Homo sapiens: one gene and its partner. The protein of the gene in region 2 binds, or shares a complex with, the protein of the main gene of each other region. Each region holds a gene or a part of one and is shown on either strand. Other genes may lie near its edges. The genes, in order: KHDC3L and NLRP5.

Region 1 (9,660 bases), on a different chromosome or scaffold from region 2:
GCCTTTTGCAAGCGTTTTAAACTCACAAGTCTCTTTAATTGTGCTTTTTTGATTAGAGGTGATGTTGAATATTTTCTTTGTTTCAGTTTTACATTTTTCTTTATTCATTCCTTTTTTTTTTTTTTTTTTTTTTTGAGATGGAGTCGCTCTGTCCCCCAGGCTGGGGTGCAGTGGCGCAATCTCGGCTCACTGTACGCTCCGCCTCCCAGGTTCACCCCATTCTCCTGCCTCAGCCTCCCGAGTAGCTGGGACTGCAGGCGCCCGCCACCATGCCCGGCTAATTTTTTTTTTGTATTTTAGTAGAGACGGGGTTTCATTGTGTTAGCCAGGATGGTCTCCATCTCCTGACCTCGTGATCCGTCCACCTCAGCCTCCCAAAGTGCTGGGATTACAGGCGTGAGCCACCGTGCCCAGCTTTCCTGGTGAGATTTTTATTGTTTATTTTTATTTATTTTTGAGATGGAGTCTCGCTCTGTTACCCAGGCTGGAGTGCAGTGGTGTGATCTCGGCTCACTACAACCTCCGCCTCCCGTATTCAAGCAATTCTTCTGCCTCAGCCTCCCAAGTATCTGGGATTACTGGCATGTGCCAACACACCTGGCTAATTTTCGTATTTTTAGTAGAGACGGGATTTCACTATGTTGCAAGGGTGGTCTCAAACTCCTGACCTCAGGTGATTCTCCTGCCTTGGCCTCCCAAAGTGGTGGGATTAGAGGCGTGAGCCACTGCACCTGGCCCTGGTGGGATTTTTATTTTTATTTATTTATTTTATTTTATTTTTTGAGACAGAGTCTCGCTTTGTCACCCAGGCTGGAGTGCAGTTGCACGATCTTGGCTTACTGCAACCTCCGTCTCCCAGGTTCAAACGATTCTCTTGCCTCAGCCTCCTGAGTAGCTGGGATTACAGGTGCGTGCCACCACGCCCAGCTAATTTTTTGTATTTTTAGTAGAGATGGGGTTTCACCATGTTAGCCAGGATGGTCTCGGTTTCCTGACCTCGTGATCCACCTGCCTCAGCCTCCCAAAGTGCTGGTATTACAGGCGTGAGCCACCGTGCCTGACCCCTGGTGGAATTTTTATAAAACCATTGAACATTTTGGGTTTTTGTTGAGACAGTCTCACTCTGTCACCCAGGCTGGAGTGCAATGGTGCAATCTCGGCTCACCGAAACCTCTGCCTCCCGGGTTCAAGCGATTCTCTTGCCTCAGCCTCCCGAGTAGCTGGGATTACAGGCACCTGCCACCATGCCTGGCTAATTTTTGTATTTTTAGTAGAGAATGGCCATTCTGGTCTCGAACTCGTGCCCTCAACTGATCCACCTGCCTTGGCCTTCCAAAGTGGTGGGATTACAGGCATAAGCCACTGCACCTGGCCCATTAAATATTTTGTTATTGGGGAAAAAGGGGTAAGCTTAAAACTTATTCTAATTTTTCCAAAAATACTGTATGATCCTAAACTCCTTCCATCCTTTGTACACATTAACATATATTGAAGTCCTAATCCCCAGTACCTCAGAATATGACTATATTTGGGCAATATTTGAAATCTTTGACTCTCAAGACTCTTGGCATAGGGCAACCTCTCCTGTTCCTCCATGCTGGGCAGCTGGCTTGGCTTGATGGCATCTATAATTCCAGCATGATATAGAGTTTCCATTTACTGGGTGTTTAGAGAAAGAAGCAGCCATATGAATAGGTGAAACTTAAAGTGTCAGTTCCGGGAAAGATGTTCATAGATATTTTGGATATGAGTTGAAAAGGTTGTGAGGGCCGGACATGGTGGCTCAGGCCTGTATTCCCAGCACTTTGGGAGGCTGAGACAGGTGTTGACCAGCCTGGCCAACATAGTGAAACCCAGTCTCTACTACAAATAAAAAAAATCAGCCAGGTGTGGTGGTGGGCGCCTGTAATTCCAGCTGCTCGGGAGGCTGAGGCAGGAGAATTGCTTAAACCCAGGAGGTGGAGGTTGCAGTGGAATGCCGTTGCATTCCAGCCTGGGTGACAGAGTGAGACTCCATCTCAAAAAAAAAAAAAAAAAAAAAAGAGTAGACTTGCCCTCTTAAATATTAAAACAGTCTATAAAGCTACTTAATTAAAATGGGGGTAGATATCAGAAAAAGTAGAAAAGTTACACATGAACATAAAATAGATTGGTAACACTGAGTTTGGGCAAGGACAGTGAAAACAGCTTGTAAAGGAGAGAACCTGACATTCTGGTAAGGTGGGTATTACACAGAGAAAGACAACATACACATTAAGTTTTAGCTCTGCTCTGATGTAGCCTCATTTGAAACTGATTTTGTGTTGATTTTGAATTTAAAGTGTTCTAAAGTTCTTCTAAAATTAGTCAACTATTTTAATAAAATGATTAGCGGTTAAAAGTTGCTAATAAGTTATTGTAAATTCAGCTTTATGTGGTAATTCCCTTATTGTAAGATACATGATTATTTTAAACTGGAGTGATAATTAGCGGTGACAAAAAGAGTCTGATAGACATTCACCTTATATTTAAAGTTAGCTTTGAACTTTTAAAAATTACTAGTGATTGGCCGGGCGTGGTGGCTCATGCCTGTAATCCCAGCACTTTCGGAGACCCAGGCGGGTGGATCACCTGAAGTCAGATCAGCCTGGCCAACATAGTGAAGCCCCTTCTCTACTAAAAACACAAAAATTAGCTGGGCGTGGTGGCGCGGGCCTGTAGTCCCAGCTACTCGGGAGGCTGAGGCAGGAGAATCGTTTGAACCCAGGAGGCAGAGGTTGTGTTGAGGCGAGATCGAGCCGTTGCACTCCAGCCTGGGCCACAGAGAGAGATTCTGTCTCCAAAATAAAATGAAGATTACCAGTGATTCTTGGTTGGTTAAAAAAAAAAAAAAAAAAAAAAAAAATCCTAATTATAGAATTACTGCGTGCTATTGTTTAATCCTAGCACCCAGCTGTTGGCTTGCATCCTTCTAGATTAATTCGCAGGCTCAGGGACCTGCATCCCAGCGCCCTGACCAAAGCTGTGACCCTAGGGAAGCCAAAGTGTTCTCTGCTGGGGCTTCTCGCTGCCATAGTAACTGAGGAAAGAGTAGCCGATGCCTGTATCTTGCTGGTGTCCACGACCTTCGTGGAAGGTGGGTGACCCAAGCAAGACCTGAAGACTGCAACAGTGCAGCCCAAGAGTGCAGCTCGGGTCTCTTCGTTTCCCCCTTCCCCGATGTCATTTTCCCCAGCTGAGAAAGTGTTCTGTGACAGAGTAGCAATACACCCAGGGCCTTCCAAATCCAGCTGGCCCCCAAGCGACCCAGTTTTCTCATCCCAAGTCACCTTGAGTAGAACGACAGCGGGCTTGGAGAGATTTCCTAGTGGGCCAGAGAGGCTTCTCACCTGTTAAAGCCAGATGCGCGCGGTTAAGGAGTACAAGGGGCACACCGGACCACAGCCGGGGAAGATGGCCACCTCGGGCGGCTAGGAACCACAGGCCCCACCTGCCTCGAGGTAGAGGGCTGCGCAGGGCAGAACTGGGCTGTTGGAGGAATGCGCCTTTCCCTCCCCTCTACCTTCCAAAATACAGACGTTAGGGAAATGCAATTATTTATTAGAACTCAAGTTTGTGTTGGCAACCATTCAACAGAAGGTGTAAAACAAAAACAATCCACATCATCCTTCCTCGCCACCCCAGCTTCCTGGACTTAAGTGAGGCGGGGGGGAGGCGGGGGGCGGGCTTCCACTTTGCAATTCTTTATTAGAACTCAAGTTTGTGTTTGCAACCATGCAACAGAAAGGGTAAAACAAAAAATCCACATCCTCTCCCCAACCCCAGCTTCTGGGCGGAAATACGGGCTTTCACTTTAACCCCTGACTGGCTCTGGCTCCAGGGCCTGAGATGCCTTCATAATCTAGTAACTGGGTCCCGGGCATCCTCGCGAAACCGCTGGGTCACTGCCTTGCTGGCAGCTTCGGGGGATCGCTGGGTCCCCGACTTGTTGGCAGCCTGGAGAGACTGCTGGGTCCCGGCCTCCTGCACCTCCACCGGAGAACCCTGTGTCCCGACCTCCTGGACTTCCACCGAACGCTGGGTCCCGGCCTCCCGGACCTCCACCGAACGCTGCGTCCCGGCCTCCCGGACTTCTATTGAAGACCGCTGGGTCTCGGCCTTCTGAGTGGCGACATCCTGGGCGAGGGCCTTTCCTGAGCCTGGAAGAAGAGCAGTGTGCAGAGGCCACAGCTGTGTCTCTATATCCTCTCCAAAAAAGGACAGTCACCCAAGCGGCCTGCGGGAGTAGGAGCCAGAAATCCCAGAACGAGGGTTCAATTTGGCCTTCTGGATCCGTGGCAGCGAGAACCGCCCCCTCCCCCACCCACCAACCGCAGGCCGACTGGGAGGGCGAGACTGCCGCCCCAGCAGCCAGGAAACCCCAGGATCACTCCTACGGAGCCAGGGTTTGCTCCAGGTAGCCCTATTCCCAGCCCCGTACCTTTCGCCTGGAGCTGGCGGTGATAGTCAGCCAGGTTCATGATCATCTTGATTGTGTCCTCCTGGTAAGAAGGCCTCCCAAATACCAAGATCTCAGCCTCGCCGTTAGGGTCCAATCGATTCACGTGAATCAAGATTTGGGACATACCCTGGACGTGCGGGATGCGTTCTCCGCCCCGGCCTGCGCGGGTAGCAGAGAGGCTGTGAGGGACCGGTGGCTCCCGGGGGTCTTGGGAGGGGAAGGTGGAAGGAGGAGACAGCCAGAGGGCATTGGCTACTGGTGAGGATCGCCCTGGAACGCAGCCAGAATATGTGGGCTGTGGGTATGGGTGGCAGAAAGAAGCCGCATGGGGGCTGCCCCTTCTTGGTCCACTCACCGAAGATCTTTTCCACCAGCCAAACCTCAAGGCGAACTACCTTCGGATTCTTCAGGAACTCAGAGTGGAACCAGGAGAACCGCTTAGGGAGGTGACCGAGCACCTCCACTGGCATTGCTTTTGGCTGCATCAGTTGCACGAGCGTCGGAAACCGCCTGGGAGCGTCCATGCTGCGGCCGGTCCTGCAGGAGACAAGGACACCACAGCAAACCCAAAGGCCGAGCTGGAGCTGGGAGACTAGAACCGCGGTTCTGCCTGGGCCTTATTTCAAGGGCTTTTGGCCAGCCCCTCCTCTCTAGCCGCGCCCTTCTTATTGGGTCCCAGGCCTCGCCTCCGCCTCCAGGAGCCCCGGCTTCTTCCGAGGCCGCCCAAGTGCACCGGTTCCTGGGCTGCTCTTAGAGTGTCCCTTCTGTCAGGAGCAGCCCTTTTCCCAGCGCACCCGGTAGGAGGAACCGGGCTCTGGGCACCAGGAATCCGCTGGTGCCCAGCGGGAGTCTTAACCATGGACTCAGGAAGGCGTGGGCAAGCCCAGTATCTCTCCCAGAGGAAAGAACTAATACTTGCAGAATGAATACTTCATAGGTCCCTCACGCGCTTCTGATCCCTGGCCACTACGTTTCCTCCCTCTGGACCAGGTTTTCAGATTATTCTGTCACTTGCCTGAGACTGCTGAGTACAGAGCAGAATAAGCGCCCGCCTTTTTTCTTTCTTTTTCTTTTTTTTTTCTGTTATAGGGTCTGTGTAGTGAGATTTGCATAGTAAAAAAAAAAAATGGATAGAAAAAAAGTTATGGGGCCTGGCTATGTTGCCCAGGTTGGCTTCGAACTCCAGGGCTCAAAAAAATCCTCCCTCTTTAGCCTCCCCAGTAGTGGGACTATAGCACGCTTTTAATTAATGCAGCCATGAACACACCTAACCACAGATAGTTCTCGTGGTTTGGACACAAGATGAGATTCCTTGAAAATTTTTGACATCTCTATTCTCTTTTTTATTTTTAATTTTTAAAATTTGCTGCAGGGTCTCTCTGTGTCACCCAGGCTAGGGGGCGGTGGTGTGATTATAGCTCACTGCAGCCTCCATCTCCTGGGCTCAAGAGATCCTCCCTCCTCAGCTCCCCCAGTAGCTGGGACTACAAGCTCCCGACACCATGCCCAGTGATGCCTCTGTTCTCTAAATAACACAATTATATTTGTCTCTTTCTTCCTTCCTTTCTTTTTTCCTTTCCCTTTTCCTTTCCTTTCTTTTCCCCTTCCCTTTCTGACAAGGGTTCGTTATGTTGCCCAAGCTGGTCTCAAGCAATCCTTCTGGCCTGGGCAAAATGATAAAACCCTATCCCTACAAAAAATACAAAAATTAGCTGGACTAGGTGGCACGCACCTGTAGTCCCAGCTACTCGGAAGGCTGAGGTGGGACAATCCCTTGATCCCAGAGAGGCTGAGTCTACAGTAAGCAGTGATGGTGCCTCTGCACTCCCCCCTGGGTGACAGAGTGAGACCCTGTCTCAAAAATAATAATAATAATAACTGTTTTAGATGTGTTGCTATAAGACAAATTATAATTTATAATTTATTTTTATTCAGTATTGAAACACTGAAGAGAACTTCAGGTTTGCCACATTAATAGGCCGAATGTATATATTCAGACCATGCCCAACCGGCTGAATATATTTCATATGTAGGAATGATTTAGTAGTTGGGAAATTCTTACTTGCTAATTGAGATGATTAAAGTACTTTGCAAAACAACAAGAAAAAAAAAAACCATTAAAAATGGGGCAAAGCCGGGCACAGTGGCTCACGCCAGGAGTTCTAGACCAGCCTGGCCAACATGGCGAAATCCTGTCTCTATTAAAAATACAAAAATTAGCCGGGCATGGTGACGGGCACCTGTAATCCCAGCTACTCAGGAAGCTGAGGCATGAGAATCGCTTGAACTCCTGAGGCGGAGGTTGCAATGAGCCGATATCAGGCTACTGAACTGCAGCCTGCTGGATAGAGCGAGACTGTCTCCACAAAACAAACAAACAAAACTGGGCAAGGAGCATGAAGAGATATTTCTCAAAAGAAGAAATACAGGCAGCCTACAAACACATGAAAAAATGCTCCGCATCACTAATCAGAAGAGGAATGCAAATTAAAATCACACCGATATACCATCATACACCAGTCACAATGACTTTTATTAAAAACTCAAAAAACAGGGCGGGCATGGTGGCTCATGCCTGTAATCCCAGCACTTTGGGAGGCTGAGACGGGTGGATCACAAGGTCAGGAGTTAAAGACCAGCCTGGCCAACATGGTGAAACCCCATCTGTACTAAAAATACAAAAATTAGCCGGGCGCAGTGGCAGGTGCCTGTAATCCCAGCTACTTGGGAGACTGAGGCGGGAGAATTGCTTGAACTTAGAGGGTGGAGGTTGCAGTGAGCTGAGATTGAGCCACTGCTCGCCAGCCTGGGTGACAGAGTGAGACTCCGTCTCAAAAAAAAAAAAAAAAGTCAAAAAACAGGCCGGGCGTGGTGGCTTACACATGTAATCCCAGCAATTTGGGAGGCCAAGGCGGGCGTATCACCTGAGGTTAGGAGTTCAAGACCAGCCTGGCCAACATGGTGAAACCCCATCTCTACTAAAAATACAAAAATTAGCGAGATGTGGTGGCAGGGGCCTGTAATCCCAGCTACTCGGGAGACTGAGGCAGGAGAATTGCTTGAACCCGGGAGGCAGAGGTTGCAGTGAGCCAAGATCGTGCCATTGCACTCCAGCCTGGAGGACAGAGCAAGACTCTGTCTCGGAAAAAAAAAAAAAAGAAATAAAAAATGTCAAAAAACGACGTAGAAGTCCGGGCACAGTGGCTCACACCTATAATCCCAGCACTTTGGGAGGCCGAGGTAGGCGGATCACGAGGTCAGGAGTTTGAGAGCAGCCTGACTAACATGGCGAAATCCCTTTCTACTAACAACACAAAAATTAGCTGGCCGTGGTGGCTGGCGCCTGTAATCCCAGGTACTCGACAGGCTGAGGCAGGAGAATCGCTTGAACCTGGGAGGCGGAGGTTGCGATGTGCCCAGACTGCGCCATTGCACTCCATCCTGGGCGACGGTGCGAGACTCCCTCTCAACAAAAAAAGAAAAAGAAAAAGAAAAAAGAAAACACACACACACAAACAAAAAAAAAAAAAACAAAAAACGACGGGGCACGGTGGCTCAAGCCTGTAATCCTAGTACTTTGGGAGGCTAGGATTTATATATCTACCACTATCTTTCACCCTCTTCCAACCCAGGTAAGCTGGGACTTAACTATGTGCATCAGACCTAGATCATCTTAAAACAGAGATATGATTTTGTTAGATCAATATTCAGTGTTCGCACTATTACGACTTTGTAAACTATTCATAGTTGTATATACTATGATTTCTTTTCTTGACAAAGTTTTGTTTTTCTAGATATTGATAATGGATTTATTTATTTATTTATTTTTGATGAGACAGCATCTCACTCCGTCACCCAGGCTAGCGTGCAGTGACCCATCATAGTTCACAGCAGCCTCCAACTTCTGGGTTCAAGTGATCTTCCCACCTCAGCTTCCTAAGTAGCTAAGATCACGGGCATGTGCCATCACAACTAATTTGTTTTAATTTTTTTTTTTAGGACAGGCTGGTCTTTTTTTGTTTTTGTTTTTGTCTTTTTTTTTTTGAGATGGAGTCTCGCTGTGTCAACAGGCCGGAGTGCAGTGGTGCAATATCGGCTCACTGCAACCTCCACCTCCTGGGTTCAAGCGATTCTCATGCCTCAGCCTCCCGAGTAGCTGGGATTACAGGCATCCGCCACCAAGCCCAGCTAATTTTTGTATTTTTAATAGAGATGGGGTTTCATCATGTCTCAGTGCCTGCAACATGGCCACTATATGCCCAGGATGGTCTCGAACTCCTGGGCTCAAGCGATTCTCCCACCTTAGCCTCCCAAAGTGTTGGGATTACAGGCATGAGCCACGGAACCCAGCCTTATTTCTTTAATATGTATTTTTTCCCAATCTTCGTGAATATTTACCTTGTATGGTATCTTTTACTTGTGCTAGTAATGCTATTGAAATCAGTATCCTTCTACATGTCATTTCTTACAAGGGGGAGTATAACTATAGGATGAAATTTCAAATGTAGAATTGCTGAGTCAAAGGATCTGTAAATTTCCAATTGATAAGGTATTGCCAAATGGCATCCCTCCGAGGTCGAACCAACCTATATACTCACCAGCCTTGTTGCTAACATTATAATATGATAAACATTGACATTAATTTTGGATAAAAGCAATGCATATGCTTTTAAAAGCAATGCATATGCTTTTAAGTGTTCCACCTTTCTAAAAAGTCATTATTTGGAAATGCAAGTACCGATGGGTGGCAAGCAGAGCCCATGCAATGGCCAGATGTCCTCTAAGACACTTGCTGCAACCCAGACCTACAGCAGAAGTGATCTTTAACATTTGGTTATAAAAATTTTCTCCAGGGCTGGGCGTGGTGGCTCACACCTGCAATCCCAGCACTTTGGGAGGCTGAGGCTGGACGATTGCTTGAGGCTAGGAGTTCTAGACCAGCCTGGGCAATATAGGGAGAGCCTATCTCCATAAAAACTAAAAAATTAGTCATGCATGGTGGCGCATGCCTGTGGTCTCAGCTACTTGGAAGACTGAGGTGGAAGAATCGCTTGAACCAGGGAGGCCAAAGCTGCAGTGAGCCGAGATCACCACACTGTACTCAACCTGGATAACAAAGTGAGACATTGTCTCAAAAACAAACAAATAAATAAATAAATAAATAAATAAATAAATAAAAC
Region 2 (11,922 bases):
CGACGCTACTGCCGAGGCGGGCAGATCACCTGAGGTCAGGGGGTCGAGACCAGCCTGGCTAACATGGTGAAACCCCATTTCTACTAAAAATACAAAAAATTAGCCAGGCATGGTGGCGCGCACCTGTAACCCCAGCTACTCGGGAGGCTGAGGCAGAAGAATCACTTGAACCTGGGAGGCAGAGGTTGCAGTGAGCCAAGATTGTGGCATTGCACTCCAGCTTGGGCAACAAGAGCAAAACTCTGTCTCCAAAAAAAAAAAAAAAAAAGAAAAAGAAAAAAAAAGATTTAGTAGGATCTCAATTGTGTGGATTCTAAAACAATTAAATTCATAGCAGCAGAGAGAAGAATGGTGGTTGCCAGAGACTGGGGGATAAAATGGGGAAAAAGGAAATATTGATGAAAAGGTACAAACAAGTTTCAGTCAGAGAAATGAGTTTTAGGGATCCCCTGCACAGCATGGCAACTAGAGTTAATAATGATGTATTTAACCTGCCATGGAATTTAAGAAAAGATGTATTAATATATGCTCCAAAATTGCTAAAAGTAGATTTTAAACATCCTCACCACAAAAAGTAACTAAGGCAATGGACATGTTAGCTTTTTTCTGCCATGTATACATATATCTAAACATCGCATTGTACCTCGCAAATATATACAATTATTGTCAATTAAAAATAAAAGTGGATTTAGGATTGCTTCAATTTGTGAATCTGCAGGTGAGGCTAAAGTGTGTGTATATATATATACACATATATATATATATACACACACACACATATATATATATATATATATATATATATATACACACACACACACATATTTTGAGACGAAGGCTTGCATTGTCGCCCGGGCTGGAGTACAGTGGCACAATCTCAACTCACTGCAACCTCCACCTCCCGGGTTCAAGCAATTCTCCTGTCTCAGCCTCCAGAGTAGCTGGGATTTCAGGCACCTGTCACCATGCCCGGCTAATTTTCTGTATTTTTAGTAGAGACAGGGTTTCACTAGGTTGGCCAGACTGGTCTCGAACTCCTGACCTTGTGGCCCACCCGCCTCGGCCTCCCAAAGTGCTGGGATTACAGGCGTGAGCCACCACATCTGGCCTCATATATATTTTTAGAAAAAGTGTCTCACTCTGTCCCTCAGGCTGGAGTGTGGTGACTATCATAGCTCACCATATAGCCTTGAACTCCTGGGCTCAAGTGATCTTCCTGCCTCAGACTCCCCAAGTAGCTGGGACTACAGGTGCACACCCCACACCTGGTTTCTTATATTTTTATAATTTTAGAATGTCTGAAATTCAGGACTGAGATAAGATAAATCTAATCCAATCTTTGGAATTCCTACTTAATTTCATTAAAAGAGGCAAGGTTTTCATTAACCTACCTACCCTCCAGGAAAAGATGTTTTCTGTGTGTGTGTATGCTACCATGGTTGTTTTGATTATTTTGATTATGATAAAACCATTTATAAGAGTAGATAGTACTTCCTGCTCCCTACCTTCAACATTCAGAGAATAAAAAAATATATAGCTTCAATGGATGTATAAATAGTATCAACAGAAACACTTTACAAACCAGGACTAGATATCCTTCAAATTAATTTTTTTTTTTGAGATAGAGTGTTGCTCTGTCACCCAGGCTGGACTGCAGTGGTGCAATCTCAGCTCACTGCAACTGCTGCCTTCTGGGGTCAAGTGATCCTCCTGCCTCAACCTCCCAAGTAGCTGAAATTACAGGTGCCAGCCACCACACCCAGCTATTTTTTTGGTATTTTAACCAGAATTTTTGGTATTTTGGTATTTTTGGTAGAGATGGGGTTTTACCATGTTGGCTAGGCTGGTCTCTAACTCCTGTCCTCAAGTAATCTGTCCACCTTGGCTTCCCAGAGTGCTGGGATTACAGGTATGAGCCACCATGCCCAGCTACCTTTTAAACTTTTACAGAACTTATACCAATTCTTCTCAAACTATTCCGAGAATTGAAGGGGAGGGAATTCTTCCTCATTCTATGAGCCAAGCATTGTCCTGATACCAAAACCAGAAAAGGACACACAAAAAAGAAAACTACAGGCCAACGTCTCTCATGAACATAGATACAAAAATCTTTGACAAAATTCTAGGTAACCAAATCTAAGAACACATCAAAAAGATCATTCCCCATGATGAAGTGGGATTCATCTCAGGGTTGCAAGGGTGGTTCATCAGCAGACTGAAGGACAAAAACCACACGATCATCAAGACATGCAGAAAAAGCATTTGATAAAATCAACATTTACAAGAAAAAAAACAAACAACCCCATCAAAAAGTGGGCAAAGGATATGAACAGACACTTCTCAAAAGAAGATATTTATATAGCCAACAGATACAAGAAAAAATGCTCATCATCACTGGCCATCAGAGAAATGCAAATCAAAACCACAATGAGATACCATCCCACACCAGTTAGAATGGTGATCATTAAAAAGTCAGGAAACAACAGGTGCTAGAGAGGATGTGGAGAAATAGAAACACTTTTACGCTGTTGGTGGGACTGTAAACTAGTTCAACCATTGTGGAAGTCAGTGTGGCGATTCCTCAGGGATCTAGAACTAGAAATACCATTTGATCCAGCCATCTCATTACTGGGTATATACCTAAAGGATTATAAATCATGTTGCTATAAAGACACATGCACACGTATGTTTATTGTGGCACTATTCACAATAGCAAAGACTTGGAACCAACCCAAATGTCCATCAGTGATAGACTGGATTAAGAAAATGTGGTACATATACACCATGGAATACTATGCAGCCATAAACAAGGATGATTTCATGTCCTTGTAGGGACATGGATGAAGCTGGAAATCATCATTCTGAGCAAACTATCGCAAGGACGAAAAACCAAACACCACATGTTCTCACTCATAGGTGGGAACTGAACAATGAGAACACTTGAACACAGGAAGGGGAACGTCACACACCGGGGACTGTTGTGGGGGAGGGAGCATTAGGAGATATACCTAATGTAAATGATGAGTTAATGGGTGCAGCACACCAACAGGGCACATGTATACATATGTAACAAACCTGCACGTTGTGCACATGTACCCTAGAACTTAAAGTATAAAAGAAAAGATGAACAAAGAAAAAAAAATTCAACATCCCTTTATGATAAGACGCAGAAGAAACATAACTCAGAACAATAAAGGCCATGTATGACAAACCCACAGCTAGCATTATACTGAATGTGGAAAAGAAGAAAGCCTTTTCCCTAAGAACTGGCACACAGGGTGCCCACTTCCGCCACTCCTATTTAACACAGTACTGGAAGTCTTAGCCAGAGCAATTAGGGAAGAAAAAGAAACAAAGGGCATCAAAATTGGAGAAGAAGTAGATTGTTCATGTTTGCAGGCAATATAATCTTTCATTTAGAAAAGCCTACAGACCCCACCAAAAGACAGAGAACTGATAAAGGAATTCAGTAAAGTTGCAGAATCAACATACAAAAATGTTGATTTTTGGATAAATTTTTCAGTATGATGCAAGTTTTTATATAATAAATGAACTCAGTATGATGCAAAAATCAACATAAAAACAGTAGCATTTCTAAACACCAATAATGAACTAGCTGAAAAAGAAAGCAATGTCCTTTATAATAGCTACAAAAATGTACCTAGAAATAAATTTAACTAAGGAGGTAAGAAATATCTATAGTAAAACCCACAGAATACTGAAAAAAATTGAAGAGGATAGATAAAAATGGAGACATCTAACGTTCACTGATTAGAAGAATGTTGTTAAAATGGCCATCCTACCCAAAACAATCTACAGATTCAATGCAATCCCTATCAAAACACCAACGACATTCTTCACAGAAATAGAAAAACAATCCTAATATTTGTATAGAACCACAAAAGATCCCAAGTAGCCCAAACAATTTTGAGCAAAAAGAAAGCTGGAGGCATATTACCTGACTTCACAAAGCTATAGTAACCAAAACAGCATGGCACTGTCATGAAAACAGACATAGACCAACAGAATAGATAATTCAGAAATCCATATATTTATAGCCAACTCTTTCTTTTTTAATGTATTTTTCAGGACTTGTTAGAATATTTTAATATTTAAGTTTTTTTAATACTTTAAGTTCTAGGGTACATGTGCACAACGTGCAGGTTTGTTACACAGGTATACATGTGCCATGTTGGTTTGCTGCACCCATGAACTCATCGTTTGCATTAGGTATTTCTCCTAATGCTATCCCTCCCCCAGCCCCACACCCTAGGACAGGCCCCAGTGTGTGATGTTCCCCACCCTGTGTCCAAGTGTTCTCATTGTTCAATTCCCACCTATGAGTGAGAACATGTGGTGTTTGGTTTTCTGTCCTTGCGATAGTTTGCTCAGAATGATAGTTTCCAGCTTCATCCATGTCCCTACAAAGAGCATGAACTCATCCAACTCATTTTCAAAGGCACCAAGATTAGGGAAAGTACACTGTGTTCACTAGGTGGTACTGCGAAAACGGGATAACCATATGCAGAATTAAACTAGACCCCTGTCTCTCACCATATATAAAAATCAACTCAAGATAAAGTACTTAAACATAAGACTTGAAATAATAAAACTACCAGAAGAAAACATAGGGAAAGCTCTTCTGAATACAAGTCAAGGCAAATATTTTGCGGCTAAGACTTCAAAAGGACAGGCAACAAAAGCAAAAATAGACCAATAGGAGTACATCCAACTAAAGAGCTTCTGTACAGCAAAGGAAATAGTCCAAGAGTAAAGAGACAACCTGGCTGGGCACAGTGGCTCAGGCCTGTAACTCCAGCACTTTGGGAGGCCAAGGCAGGTGGATCATGAGGTCAGGAGATCGAGACCATCCTGGCCAACATGGTGAAACTCCATCTCTACTAGAAATACAAAAATTAGCTGGGTGTGGTGGCACGTGCCTGAAATCCCAGCTACTGGGGAGGCTGAGGCAGGAGAATCGCTTGAACTAGGGAGTTGGAGGTTACAGTGAGCTGAGATGGTGCCACTGCACTCCAGCCTGGTGACAGAACAAGACTCTGTCCCCCCTCCCAAAAAAACCCCGCAGAATGGGAGAAAATATTTGCAAAATAATGATCTGGCAAGGAACTAATACCCAGAATATATGAGGAACTCAAACAACTGTATAGCAAAACTCCAAGTAATCCATTTAAGAAGTGGGTAAAAACCTGAACAGACATTTCTCAAAAGACATCCAAATGACCAACAGATACGAAAAAAGATTCAACATTACTCATCATCGCAATCTCACTGTGGTTTTGATTTGCATTTCCCTCTAGTTGGAATGGCTACTATCAAAAAAGACGAAAAATAAATGCTGGCAAGGATGCAGAGAAAGAAACTCCTTTCCACTGTCAGTGGAAATGTAAATTAGCACAGCCATTATGGAAAACAGTGTAGCAGTGTCTCAAAGAACTGAAAATAGATTAATACCCTATGATCCAGCGATCTGGTGATTTACCCGAAGTATATCAAAGGTATGTCTGCACTCTCATGTTTACCACCCCACTATTCACGATAGCTAAGATATGTAATCTACCTAACTGTCCATCAACAAATGAATCAAGAAAACGTGGTATACACACACAAGGGAACATGTTTCAGCCTTCAAAAAATCCTGCCATTTGTGACAACACAGATGAGCCTGTAGCTCTTCATGTGAGCTACAGCCTGTAGTTCATTGTGTGAAGCAAAATAAACCAGGCATGGGAAACTAAATACTGAATGTATTTTACTCATATGTGGGAGTTAAATTGAGCAAATGGGACTATGGAAGTAGGGGATGTAATTGTGGGTATTAGAGGATAGGGGAGAGGAGGGAGAGGGGAGAGGGGAGGTTGAGAGGAGGAGGGGGGAGGAGAGGAGGGGAGAGGAGGGGGAGGGGGAGGGGGAGGGGGAGGGGAGGGGGGGAGGGGAGGGGGGAGGGGAGGGGGGAGAGGAGGGGAGGGGGGAGAGGGGGAGGGAGGGGGGAGAGAGGGGGGAGAGAGGGGGGAGAGGAGGGGGAGAGGAGGGGGAGAGGAGGGGGAGAGGAGGGGGAGAGGAGGGGGAGAGGAGGGGGAGAGGAGGGGGAGAGTATGGCTCATGGGTGCTAAGATTACAGGTAGAAGGGAGAAATGGGTGCAGGTGTTCTGCAGCACTGCAGGTGAATATGGTGAACTATAACTTATTGTCCACTCTCAAAAAGCTAGAAGGGAGGACAGAGTGTTCACAACACAAATGTTTGGGGTGATGAATATGCTAAGTCCCCTGATTTGATCATGATACATTGTATACAGGTATCAAAATATCACTCGGGCCGGGCGCAGTGGCTCACACCTGTAATCCCAGCACTTTGGGAGGCCGAGGTGGGTGGATCACCTGAGGTCGGGAGTTCAAGACCAGCCTGACCAACATGGAGAAACCCCATCTCTACTAAAAATACAAAATTAGCCAGGCATGGTGGCAGGTGCCCGTAATCCCAGCTACTCAAGAGGCTGAGGCAGGAGAATCGCTTGAACCTGGGAGGCAGAGGTTGCAGTGAGCCAAGATTGCACCATTGCACTCCAGCCTGGGCAACAAGAGCGAAAATTCATTTCAAAAAAAAAAAGTCTCCATAAATATGTACAGTTATGTGTCAACTAAAATAAAGGAAAAACTGCAGCAAATGTATCTATTTTTGACAAAGATCAGGGGTCAGCAAATCTCCCAGAAGGAGCCAGGCATTTTTGGCTTTGGGGCCATTTGCTCTCTGCCACCCGTGCTTAGCTGCTCCTGCACTGGGAAAGTAGCTGTAGACAATTTGTCAACAAAGGAGAAAAGCTGTGTTCCAATAAATCTTTATTTACAAAACTGGGCAATGGGCTGGATTTGACACAAGCCCTACAGAGAATCCCATAAGAATGTTACGTGTCATTATTAAAAAGTCAAAAAACCGACGCTGCTGAGGTTGCAGGAAAAAATGGAAAGCTTATACACTGTTGGTGGGAGTGTAAATCAGTTCAGCTATTGTGGAAAGCAGGGTGGAGATTCCTCAAAGAGCTAAAAGCAGTAGCGTTGGACCCAGCCATCCCATCACTGGGTATATACACTAAGAGGAATATAAAGCATTCTCCCATAAAGATACATGCATGCAAATGTTCACCGTGGCACTGTTTACAATAGAAAAGACATGGAGTCAACCTAAATGCCCATCAAGGACAGACTGGATAAAGAAAATGTGGTACACGTACACCATGGAATACTATGCAGCCATAAAAAAGAATGAGATCATGTCTTTTGTGGGAACATGGATGGAACTGGGGGCCATCATCCTAAGCAAACTAAGACAGGAACAGAAAACCAACTACCACATGTTCTCACTTATAAATGGGAGCTAAATAAGAACACATGGACACAAAGAGGGGAACCACAGATACTGGGGTCTACCTGAGGGTGGAGGGTGGGAGGAGGGTGAGAAGCAGAAAGAAATAACGACTGGGTACTGGGCTTAATAACCTGGGTGAGGAAATAGTATGTATAACAAACCCCCATGACACAAGTTTACCTACGTAACAAACCTTCACATGTACCCCCAAAACTAAAAAGTAAAAAAAGAATGTTAGCTGTCAGCACTTCCGTTCAGTTTTGTACTCTCTCCCTATTCTTTATATCTGATATTCCACTATTATTTATATTTACCTAATTTATATTTGATAGGAAAGCAATCAGATAAAGAGGAGGTATAAAAGTGGAAAAAGGTGAAAATTAACATCTGTATGTAGGTATGTATGCCTAATAAATTACTCAATTTTAAATTATATGTAGTTATTAAATTGGGCTGGTAACAAATGTAACGATGAAATCCCACACAAAATCTAATAACCAGTTAAACGTGAGATCAAATGAACAGCAACTATAGAGGTAAAACATGCATAATTTAGAAAAGTGGCTATCTGTTTTGAGAGCTTTAAAATGCGGCTGCTAGATAAAAGGCTCAATGTGGTGAGGCAGAGGCAGATTCCCAACACATCAGTCATCCTCCATCAGTATAATATCATCCAAGAAGTACTGCTGATATTGTTATCAGGACAAGAAACTCAATGTTTCTATGAAAAGCCAAAACTAGACAAGAAAATTCTAAGAAGAATGATATTCACTCTGTTGATGTCTAGGCTGCACTTTAACATCTACGATAGAAGGTCACCATTTCCGGGGGCTAAATTTTGAAATATTTATGTTCATGAATTCCTACTTTACATTTAGCCCCCAAATAATGAGCAAATGGAATAGAAGGTCTCAATCGAATGGTATAAAAGAGACAAGATGACAGATTAATTCAATACAGTACCCTCCTCACTCCAGAAAAACAAACAAATCTTTAAAGTCCCGCTGAAAAAACTGCTGCAAATAAATTTGAGACATGACAAAGAATGCATTACGTAAACAGCTCTTCCAATCCATGATAATGATCAACAGCTCAGCGGAATTTTTTTTTTCTTTGAGATGGAGTTTTGCTTTTGTTGCCCAGGCTAGAGTACAGTGATATGATCTCAGTTCACTGCAATCTCCGTCTCCTGGGTTCAAGTGATTCTCCTGCCTCAACCTCCCCAGTAGCTGGGATTACAGACACCCTCAACCATGCCCAGCTTTTTTTCTTTTTGAGACAGAGTCTTGCTCCGTCGCCCAGGCTGGAATGCAGTGGCACCATCTCGGCTCACTGCCAGCTCCGCCTCCCGGGTTCCTGCCATTCTCCTGCCTCAGCCTCCCGAGTAGCTGGGACTACAGGCGCCCACCACCATGCCCGGCTAATTTTTGTATTTTTAGTAGAGACGGGGTTTCACCGTGTTAGCCAGGATGGTCTCGATCTCCTGACCTCATGATCCACCCGCCTGGGCCTCCCAAAGTGCTGGGATTACAGGCATGAGCCACCGTGCCCGGCCTAATTTTTGTATTTTTAGTAGACAGGGTATTTCGCCATGTTAGTCAGGCTGGTCTCAAACCCCTGACCTCAAATGATCCACCTGCCTCGGCCTCCCCAAGTGCTGGGATTATAGGCATGAGCCACTGTGCCCAGCCTATTAGAAGGATTTTGAAGAGTTAAAAAACTGCATATGACTTTTGTAATCCCAGCACTTTGGGATCCTGAGGCAGGTGGATCACCTGAGGTCAGGAGTTCGAGACTAGCCTGGTCAACATGGTGAAACCGCATCTCTACTAAAAATACACAAATTAGCCGGGCATCGTGGCGTGTGCCTGTAGTCCCAGCTACTCGGGAGGCTGAGGCAGGAGAATCGCTTGAACCCGGGAGGCAGAGGTTGCAGTGAGCTGAGATCTCACCATTGCACTCCAGCCTGGGCATAGAGTAAGACACTGTCTCAAAAAAAAAAAAAAAAAAAAAAAAAAAAGAAAAAAGAAAAAAAAGAAACGGCATGACTTTTAAATGTACTTTAAAAAAAAGTTATTACTGATAAGGTAAATAGCCAAAATGATGTACTACGTTTGACATGTGAGGCTGACAATGTCCACAATGTGTGACTGGACGCTGCTTTGTGATGGGTGAAGGAAAAGGTGCTCCTACATTAGTGAAGTGTAAATGGGTGCCATCTTTTTGGACGGTACTTTAACAATCTTTATCCGTTTTAAATGCAATTAGACCCAGCCGTGTGTAAAACAGCAAGACTGAAGACCATTTAGGAGTCGATTAAAAACAGGTGGGTTAATTTGAGCACCAACGTGCCCTGCATCCTTAAAAATGCACAACAATCAGCACAGAAAGTTGCCCCATCTGTAAGGCTCTTAATGCCATACACGTGCGCAGAATGTCTTTGGGTGATGAGCAGAAAATAGGGAAGAGACACTACGGGGGCAGGGAAGGACACACTTCCCGCCACACCTTCTCATATTGCTGCTCTTTCAAATTAATACTGAAAAAGGCCGGGCGCAGTGGCTCACGCCTGTCATCCCAGAACTTTGGGAGGCTGAGGTGGGTGGATCATCTGAGGTCAGGAGTTCGAGACCAGCCCGGCCAACATGGGGAAACCCCGTCTCTACTAAAAATATGAAAATTAGCCGGGCGTGGTGGCGGGCACCTGTAATCCCAGCTACTCGGGAGGCTGAGGCAGAATTGCTTGAACCTGGGAGGCGGAGGGTGCAGTGAGTAGAGATCCAGCCATTGCACTACAGCCTGGGCAAAAGAGGGAGACTTTGTCTAACACATACACACCAAAAATCACCAAATACTAAAAAGTACCTCCCATTAAAAAATCATTTTAGTAGAAGATAAGTAGACATAAATGAATTTCATCAAAACAATTGAGGTATTCTTACAATTACCCATCCATGGAAGACCAAAAAACTAGGTACACGTGAACACTGATGATAGAACATTGAAGTTTATGTGCTGTATTGCTCAAAATAGAACCATAGCAAGAAAATAAGCTTTTCTACACATTCCTATAAATATTTAGGGACAATATTGACTATTGGTAAATGGAAAAATACTTATTTCTGAGCACATGTTTAAAAGCTTACATCCTGACCACAGAACAATTAAGATTTTCTAGGTTTTTCTCCCCCTTCTGAGTTAACATAAACCACCTGGATACATGGAAATTGAAAGCAAAACACAGAAGACAAAGACTCTCAACTTAGGCAATGAAATTAAGAAGGAAGGTTATTTGAGAAAGAACGAATTTCGGACTGTCATATCTAAACACTTCTATATACACGTAATTTGAATTAAACATTTCCCTTACCGCTCTACACAATCCTTTAAAGGGGCTGGAGGACCAAGACGTGAACCAGGGCTGTAAAAACCAACAAAAGCCTCAGGGGTGGGTAAGGAAACGAGTATGGTCTAGGGACAGTGATTTTATTTTTAAGATGAGGTGATTGAGCAGGTTCATACATTCAGAGCTGAGAATAAATAAAGGTAGAAGAAGCAAGAAGACGATGAAGACTTTGTCTATATCCTGTCTTAGGTGACTCAAAGCATTTCATTTAAACTTTATATAGCATATATATATATATATATATATATACACACACACATATATATATTTATGTGTATATGTATTTTTTTTTTCTTCTTGAGACAGAGTCTTGCTCTGTCGCCCAGGCTGGAGTGCAATGGCGTGATCTCAGCTCACTGCAAACTCTGCCTCCTAGATTCAAGTGATTCTCCTGCCTCAGCCTCCCGAGCAGCTGGGATTACAGGAGCCCACCACCACGCCTAATTTTTTGTATTTTTTTTTTTAGTAGAGGCGGGGTTTCACCATGTTGGCCAGGCTGGTCTGGAACTCCTGACCTCAGGTAATCTGCCCACCTCGACCTCCCATAGTGCTGGGTTACAGGCGTGAGCCACCACGCCCAGCCTTACATAGCATATTAATACACACAGGGCATCACCGTCCTCACTCCAGGGTTCAAAGCTGAGGTTCTGTGGTGTTGACTGGGTTGCTCTGTTTCAGGGGAAAGTACGTTAATGCATACAGGATGATAACGCCTGGTATTTGCCAGTTGTCAGAGTGGGAACTGATCAATCAAGCCCCAGAGAAAGATGACTGGACGGCCTAAGGATTAATCTGGGATAGGCAGTCACTTTTTCCCGTGAAGTCGGGTGGGTGAGGAGTTGGGGAGAAGCTAGTTATTCGAGTCCAGGCAGGAATACAGCTGGAGGGAGGTAAAGGAAGGCTGCTGGTTGAGGTTATTTTCTGAGGATGAGTGACTTCCCTAAGCTTGCATTTTGTCTCTATGCTTTTTCTACAGACCGTACCCCTCCCACCTCACCTTTCTACCCAGGTGTCCTGAATGATTAGAAAGCAGCAGTTAAGATTATAGGGCTTGAAGTCTCAGACCCAGCTTTGAATGATTTGCTGCTTTCTACCCCAGGCAAGCCATTTAACTTATCTGGGGCTCAGCTTCCTC

Evidence for each region.
Region 1: NLRP5 (region 2) and KHDC3L share a complex: the UniProt entries of both Homo sapiens proteins name them as parts of the subcortical maternal complex.

Annotation. Positions count from the first base shown.
Region 1 is NC_000006.12:73,358,074-73,367,733, reverse strand, and holds KHDC3L (KH domain-containing protein 3), read right to left. Parts: upstream 5,077-9,660; 5' UTR 5,005-5,076; coding exon 4,836-5,004; intron 4,640-4,835; coding exon 4,460-4,639; intron 4,179-4,459; coding exon 3,874-4,178; 3' UTR 3,563-3,873; downstream 1-3,562. UniProt on the Homo sapiens protein: Component of the subcortical maternal complex (SCMC), a multiprotein complex that plays a key role in early embryonic development.
Region 2 is NC_000019.10:55,987,559-55,999,480, reverse strand, and holds part of NLRP5 (NACHT, LRR and PYD domains-containing protein 5), read right to left. Parts: intron 11,668-11,922; coding exon of another isoform or gene 11,568-11,667; exon of another isoform or gene 10,852-11,567; intron 1-10,851. UniProt on the Homo sapiens protein: Component of the subcortical maternal complex (SCMC), a multiprotein complex that plays a key role in early embryonic development.